Linked DNA regions of Homo sapiens: region 2 is reported to be linked to region 1. Evidence: microRNA targets listed by miRTarBase, many of them from high-throughput screens and not tested one by one. Region 1 holds a microRNA gene; the other region holds the end of a gene's coding sequence.

The links. The annotated mature microRNA hsa-miR-1182 reads GAGGGUCUUGGGAGGGAUGUGAC and lies in region 1 at 1,845-1,867, shown strand. An mRNA with a match to its seed (bases 2 to 7 or 8) in the 3' UTR can be bound and repressed. Matches are read on the target gene's strand: a 7mer-m8 pairs with bases 2 to 8, a 7mer-A1 pairs with bases 2 to 7 and ends in A, and an 8mer does both.
Region 2: miRTarBase lists TEX22 as a target of hsa-miR-1182. The part of its 3' UTR that is shown has no 7-base or 8-base seed match.

Annotation. Positions count from the first base shown.
Region 1 is chr1:231,017,048-231,021,707 of GRCh38, reverse strand. MIR1182 (microRNA 1182) reads left to right here and starts at 1,784; the gene lies at 1,784-1,880. FAM89A (family with sequence similarity 89 member A) reads left to right here. Exons shown (of 2, transcript NM_198552.3): 2 at 1,582-2,750. The coding sequence ends at 1,845. It also overlaps the pseudogene LOC644006.
Region 2 is chr14:105,411,364-105,414,363 of GRCh38, reverse strand. It overlaps TEX22 (testis expressed 22), which reads right to left. Exons shown (of 4, transcript NM_001195082.2): 3 at 2,868-2,996; 4 at 505-2,704. The coding sequence ends at 2,531. Among named protein-coding and RNA genes, the nearest start is that of MTA1-DT, 6.9 kb to the left of the region's middle. RefSeq lists enhancers at 1,756-2,258, 2,259-2,762 and a silencer at 2,834-2,963.

The sequences.
Region 1 (4,660 bases):
CTTCCAAGGAAATCTCAGGGGTGGAGGTTGCTTCCCGTGTTCGCTTCTGGGCTTGTCTAGAATTTATTGCTCCACCTCGACGCTTTCTTGTACTCATTGTGCTCTTTGGTGCCTTTCGTTTCCTAACAGAAAAGGAAGTGATCTATACCAAGGTTTGCAGGGAAGTCGAATGTTCTCAACCTTTCGTGCCCTCTGGTTAATCATCTGGCTTGCAAAAGAATTTGGATCGGGACAGATTTCCAGTATTTTAAAGTCCTGGAGCTAGTTAGGTCTGCAGGCGCTGCCACCGGCGCACTCCAGAGAAGAAGCTCCTTCTCCAGCCGCCCAGGAGAGCTGTACCCATGCATCTTTAGTGCTTTAGCCCGGGAGGCATTAGAATCCTGTTTATTGAGTGGATTGATATTGAATTGCCCTAATAGCTCCATAAGAGAAATTATTGTTCCATTTTGCCATCAACCAAGGCACGGAGATGAAGGTGATAAATACCTTGCTCAGGGGCCAAGAAGCCGAAGGCAGGTCCCCTGGTGTCTTCTTGAGTTTCTTCCCGTTGCCATTCAGAGCAGGGTCTGTGGAACAGCAGCATAGCACGGAATCACCATAGGGGCTTGGTGGAAGCACAGCCATCCAGTGGCCCCAGACCCACTGAATCAGAGTCTGCTTGTTGAACAAGATCCCCGGGTGGTTCTCATGCACTTTAAAGGTTAAGAGGCACCGATGCTGGTCTATGCTGCATTTCCAAGAGGCTTAACTGTTCTCTCTTTGGTATTGGTGTAAACGATGCATTTCCTGTTCTGACTGTGACCGTGCTCTTTTCTCTGGGATGGGTGGTGGGGGAGGGAGGAACTGGAAGATAAACAAGTATATGACTTTTATAAATGTTCTGTGTTCTTTTGCTGCTTGTTTTTGTGGGGCTAGTTTTCAGGAGGAACTGTAGAGCCCTTCATCTTCCAGGGCTTCCTCATATTCAGTCAGTTACTCTGGGGAGGGATCCCAGAACCATCTGGGATAAGACTGACCCTGCCTGGAGGAGAGGGAGGCAGTGTAACCTCTGACCACTGAACTGCACAGAGGTGGGTGCTCCAGGGGGATGTCACGTTGGCCAGCTGCTGTCACTGGCAAAGGGCATTCTGTTGCCCCTGGGAGTTGAGAATGACTGCATCAGTCAGATCCTAACGCAGTAGCAGGGAAGGCCAATGTGGGTCTTCTCCGAGTCTGATTGGGAGAGGAAGTGACACACTCGTTTCTTGGCGTCCAAAGTGAAAGCAGGTGGGGCCACTAGAATATGCAGTGCTGTTGCTTCATCAGGCACACTCAGGAGCGCCAGGGTAAATTCTGCAGGCTGCCCTGGTTGCCCCACAGATGCGATCCTCACTGGACTCAATGAGTAACGTCTGAGGTATGGGCATAACACAATTAAGGTGTTCTCAAAACTGGAAATCCAAAGCATCCGAGTGATGCTCTGAATCATGCGCCGTGTGGAAGGAATGTGCTGGCAGGCGCAGATCGCCGGCTGAGTGTTCCACTGAAATTAAACTCAAGTGCTGACTTCTCGTTTTTTACCTCCCCACCCCTTCCCTCAAGGTTGGTCTCCGCCAGCTGGACATGTCCTTGCTCTGCCAACTGTACAGCCTCTACGAGTCGATTCAGGAGTACAAGGGGGCATGCCAGGCAGCCTCCAGCCCAGACTGCACTTACGCTCTGGAGAACGGCTTCTTCGATGAAGAGGAGGAATATTTCCAGGAGCAGAACTCCCTGCACGACAGGAGGGACCGAGGCCCTCCTCGGGACTTGTCACTGCCTGTCTCCTCCCTCTCCAGCAGCGACTGGATTCTGGAGTCCATCTAGAGGGTCTTGGGAGGGATGTGACTGTTGGGAAGCCCTTCCTACTGGACACGCTGTCATCATTTGCTGCTTCTCTTGCAAGAAAGCACCTCCGTTGTGGACGGTCCTCGGGCACAGGGGATGAGCGCTACCAGTTTCATTTGTAGGCAGGGAGTTCTCCGCGGATGCATGGTGGCAGTCTGCTTTGATGGCAGCAGTTTCTGCTTAGGTGACCTAGAGGTCCTCAGCAGTATCCTCCACACCTATTTATTGAGGTGCACCTGCTGGGGATTCATAATGAGAATATAACAAGAGGATCTCGGTGAAAGGCCTTAGTGGGTGTTTTGTGTGAGGTGGCTTGTAGCTAGCTACTTCCTTACAGATGGTAGAGTATTCCAATCCTCTTTGTGTTAGGGTTCTTGCTTCCAGTTTGGGATGTATTAAAACCACCATTTCACTGCTTCCCTTCCTCAATATGCTCTGCAGCTTTTCTTGCTGTTTAAACCTCTCGCCTCAGCTTTATTTATTTGTAAGCTGCATTACTAACTGCCCAGTGATTCGGTGAAAGCTTTTTACTGAAAAAGTTAACATTTCTAGTCATCCCAATCAACTGGCTTTTTTCAACCAAAATTTTATATCATTCTTTGTCTATCAGATACGAGAGGAAGGAAGATAATACGAAGACATGTTGAATAGTGAAAAAAAAAAAAAGAACACAAAAACTGGGGCAAGCCAATGTGATGTATCACTCACTGTAAGATGGCAAATGTTTTCATTTTTAAGATTCCGAATGTAAACTAGTGTGCTAGAAAGCAAACCACCCGCCACTCAAACCAGTAATTACCTTAAGCCTTAATATATTTATTAAAATACTTTATGAGAACATTACACTTTGTAGGTTAAAAATGAGGATAAAATGCTAAACTATCTGTGTCATGTGTTATTTTATTCTGAATTTGGAATCATCAACTTTCATGACTTGAATGCATTGAGTCCAGTCAAATAATGAAAGAAAATTAGTTTGTTTTTCTGCCACTAAATGCATTTGAAACAAGATTGACTCTGTTGAGCTTAAGGAATCGTTTTAGCAAGAGTAGATCACCATTTACAGCTGGTTCTCAGTGCTCTTTTTTTTCTTTGAGACGGAGTCTAGCTCTGCTGCCTAGGCTGGAGTGCAGTGGCACGATCTTGGCTCCCTGCAACCTCTGCCTCTCTGGGTTTAAGCAATTCTCCCACCTCAGCCTTCCGAGTAGCTGGGATTACAGGCGCCTGCCACCACGCCCAGCTGATTTTTGTATTTTTAATGGAGATGGGGTTTCACTGTGTTGTCCTAGCTGGTCTTGAACTCCTGACCTCGTGATCCACCCGCCTCGGCCTCCCAAAGTGCTGGGATTACAAGTGTGAGCCACCATGCCTGGCTGCTCTTCTGTCTTTGAATGCTGCAGACTCCTTCATCTTTCTTTTGGTGTGATAATTGCTCACTAGAGCGTCCTTCAGGTTAGGGAGAGGAAGGCACCTCAATGTCATGCATCGCCAAGTGTTAACCTGTCAAGTACACCCTGGGTCAGGAACTGGGGTGAGATACAGAGAAGGAGGAATACGCCTGCTTATTTCCTCTGTTGAAAGGAGTTAAAATGAGAGGTGGCAATTAATTGCCTTCAGCACATAACTGGTCAGTGGGGACAAGAAAATTAAAAGCAGTTAAGACCAACAGAGTTAAGTCTGGATCACTTGCAGGAAGTTCCTTTGAGGCTGTTCCATGCTTACAGTGAGTTGAACCTTTAGATCAGCTGTTCTTGAACCTGGCCACTTTAAGAATCACCTGGGGAATGTTTAGAAAAATACTGATGCCTAGGGCTGGGCGCGGTGGCCCACGCCTGTAATTCCAGCACTTTGGGAGGTCAAGGCAGGCACATCACAAGGTCAGGGGATTGAGACCATCCTGGCCAACATTGTGAAACCCCGTCTCTACTAAAAATACAAAAATTAGCCAGACATGGTGGTGCGTGCCTGTAGTTCCAGCTACTCGGGAGGCTGAGGCAGGAGAATCACTTGAACCCAGGAGGCAGAAGTTGCAGTGAGCCGAGATCGTGCCACCGCACTCTAGCCTGGTGACAGAGTGAGACTCCATCTCAAAAAAAAGAAAAAAAAGAAAAATACTGATGCCTGGGCTCCAGCACCCTGCATGCCTAGTCTGGATTTAAGTAGGAGTGAGGCGTGGGCGCCTCTATGGATCGAGGAAGCCTCCCAGGTGATTCTAATGTGTAGAAATGTTGAGATACAGTCCTTCAGCTACATAGTGTTCAAAGCGTGGTGCGTAGATCAGACATGGACAATCTCAAAGCACCCCAGCCTTGCTGAATCAGCCCCTGCCTCTTAAGATGCCTCTGATGATTCCTTTCACAAAGCTTGGGAAGCAGCTTTCTGTCGGCCCAGTGCCTAGCACTTGGAGACCACCTCTCCATAGAGGGCTACCAGGATCTCCTTCAGCACTGCGGAAGAGTGGGCCCCAGGGCATGATTAGGAGACCCCAGTCCTTTCAGAATGGGTCAACAATAGCAAGGGAGTGAAGCTCGAAGGACAAGTTCAGGCTTGGGGGAACTCATGGTTCAGAATGGCTCCCTTCCCTGGGTTGCTGCCTCTAGGCTGTTCTGGAACTGCAGTGATTCATTGTGCTTTTGAGTTTTGGGGCTTTCATCTCACTATTGCTGGATAGTCTGTCAGAGTTAGAAGTGGAATGAGTCGAGGCAGGCCAGGGGCCTCTCCCTTGCTGCTGGGAAGGGCCAGCACATTCCTCGTTCCTATGATGAAGATGCACGTGTATACAATAACCACCACA
Region 2 (3,000 bases), not on the chromosome of region 1:
CCGAAGGAGGCCACAACTACCAGCCAAGGAATGCAGGTGGCTTCTTGAGGCTAGAAAAAGGGAAACAGGGTCTCCCCTGGCACCTCCAGAAGGAACAGAACTCTGCCAACCCCTCATTCTGAGCCCAAAGATACCCATTTTGAACTTCTACAAAACTTAGCTAATACATTTGTGTTGTTTTAAAACACTCAAAGCCAGGCACCAGTGGAACACTCATGTAACCCCAGCTACTCAGGAGGCCGAGGCAAGAGGATTGCTTGGGTCAAGGAGTTCAAGACCAGCCTGAGCAACATACCAAGACTGTTTCTCTATAAAAACTTACAAAAAAAAAAATAAAGGCCGGGTGTGGTGGGATGCACCTGCAGTCCCAGCTACCCAGGAGGCCAAAGTCGGGGGATCACTTGAGTCCAATAGTTCAAGACCAGCCTGGGCAACATAGCAAGCCTGCCCCCCGCTCCGCCCCAACCACCAAAAAAAGAAAAAAGAAAAAGAAACCAAACCTACTGAATTTGTGGCAATTTTTATGGCAGCTACAGAAAACTAGTACACAAATCCCAGTTGTGACAACCTAAGCGGTCTCCAGGCACTGCCCCTGTCCCGGCACCACCTCTGTTGGAGAGGCCTGTGCCTCTCAGTGCCAATACCCTGCTGCCAGCTGGCCCTGTGGCCACCTTACCCACCAGGAGACTGGCTCTGGGCCTCAGCCTGAAGGAGGCCAGGGTTTTGTCTCTGCTGCCACCATGGGGGAGGTGCTCTGTAGGGAGACCTCATGGAGCAGAGAGGGCAACCATCCCAGCATCACCAGCATCCTGGACCACCACGCTCTGACTGCAGCCTCAGGAGACACTCAAACGAGAGCAGGAGAGCTGGCAGGATGAGCCCAGCCAACCCCCAAGTCACAGAACAACGAGTGGTTCTTTAAAGCCACTCAGCAACAGAGGACTGCCCAGCTCATCACCCCCATGGCAACTGCTTACCTGTCAGCTCCGCTCTGCCCTGTTTACACCTGGGGATGCCTGCCTGGCATGCAGCTGGGCCCATAGGATCCCATTCCCCACATCATCATCAGGGGCCTCAGAGGGGGTGGGTCATGACCCAAAACTCCCCACACCCTTAAGGACAGTGCCCTGCCCAAAACTCCCCACACCCTTAAGGACACCTGCCCTAGCCCCTGGAGGATCTGCCCTCCATCCACCTACCCTAGGGCTCCTGAGAAATGCAGAGGATCCCTAGGGTGCACCAAATGACATTCAGAGGACTTGGGAGAGAAGGGGAGCACCTGGCTGTGTAATCTTGGAAGGCTTCCTGAAGGAGGAGGGAACTTCACTGAGTCTTACAGTAAGAAGGGGAGACAGGCAGGTGCAGAGGATTCAACTCGGGCCAGGGATCCTGTGTCAGGGCAGCAGGTGGCTGGCAGTGCAGTCAGGTGGCTTCTCAGCAGCGGGAAGGGGAGGGTTACAGGCCAGGTGGGCAGCACAGCCAGCATGTAGTGTATCTGGTGGTCCAGGCCACCGCACAGGTCCAGCTCCTGCCCTCACCTGGAGCCCAGGAGTGATCACCTCCGCTTGCCCCAAAGCCTCCTCCACCTAGCCACCTCCACAGAAGCCCAGTCAGGCCCCTAACAGTCAGTCACAGAGTTCAGGGCCCTTTCCCCACCCCCACCCACCCCGGGCTGGGAACCCATGCTCACAGCTCTCCTGCCCCGCCTCCCAATCCAGTCCCCCTGCAACTTAGTGTCCCCAAAATGCAGCTGGGACACGTTACCCCGGCTCAGCACCCTTCCGAGGGCCCTGCAGCCTGGAAACGAGGCAGTCACCCAGTGGACCATGTCCCACAGGCCCCTGCGGCAGCCAGCTCCTCACAGTTGCTCAGACCCCCTGCGCAGGATACCCTCTTGGCCCTCGTCCACCACCAGCATCGCTGTCCAGAGGCCAGGAGGCATCTCTGCCTCCAGACAGCCTCCCTCTGTGCTGGGCACTGCATTGGGTCCCTGGGCTTGCTGCTCCCCACCACAGCACCCCTGGGGTCCCGTGTGCCCTTCTGGGTCTTCAGAGGCAGGACCCAATGTGAGACCCCGCCCCCTGGAGAACTCTGCCTGGCCCATCTCACAGCCTGGTGCAGGCAGATACCCAGTTCCCCAGACCAGGCCAGCCAAGGAGCTGAGTCTCCAGGCAGCGCCTGCCACTGGGGCTTCCCAGGACACCAGTGCACCTCAGGCAGGCCCAGGTACCCCAGGCCTCCTCCCAGCGGCCCCGAGGGCAAGCTCCTGCTACCCAGGCCTTGCCAGGGCCCTCTCAGACTGACCCGGGGCAGTGTTCCCCTCCCCTAGATGGCCTCCCATAGCCCCTAGCCCGGTCTCCAAGGCCTCAGCAGCTGCAGGCTGTCCGGAGCCAGGTCCTGCCTGGCCTGTTTTCCTAACATGGGTGGGTGGTGACCCCCTGGTGGGGCACAAAGAAGGCGCAGAGGCTGCCCCCACCGTGGGCCCCCAAGGAAAGGCACTGGAAGACAGACAATGGGCTGAATGGGGCTCTTAGGAAGGGGGTGACCTCGAGGCCTCGAAAGTCGCATTATGCCAGAAAGGCGCACTGCGCGCCAGGAAGGCCTGGAAGGCGTTGGTGGACTCGGTGGACCTCAGCGGGTGGGGAAGGAGCACGTCCTTGTCCACGTCCTCCGACACCAGCTGGGCTACCATCTGCACGACGTCCTGCGGGCGAGGGTGGTCAGGGAGCCTCGAGGGGCGGGAAGGGGACAACGGCGGGGCCCGGGAGCGCCGGGGTAAAGGGCCCAGTGGGACTGAGTCGAGGGAGGCGAGGCGGAGGGGCGGGGCGGGGCGGGGACGGGGCGGGGAGGACCCGCCCCCCGCGCACCCTGCAGTGCAGCTGGGTCCCGGCGGCGCCCGGCCTCTCCCGGCCGCCCAGCGTGGCCAGCCGCCGGCGCTCGTCGATGCTGACGCTCCAGCGGCGGCCCGGGCGCCTGCGTTCCGGCGGCTCGCACACCTGG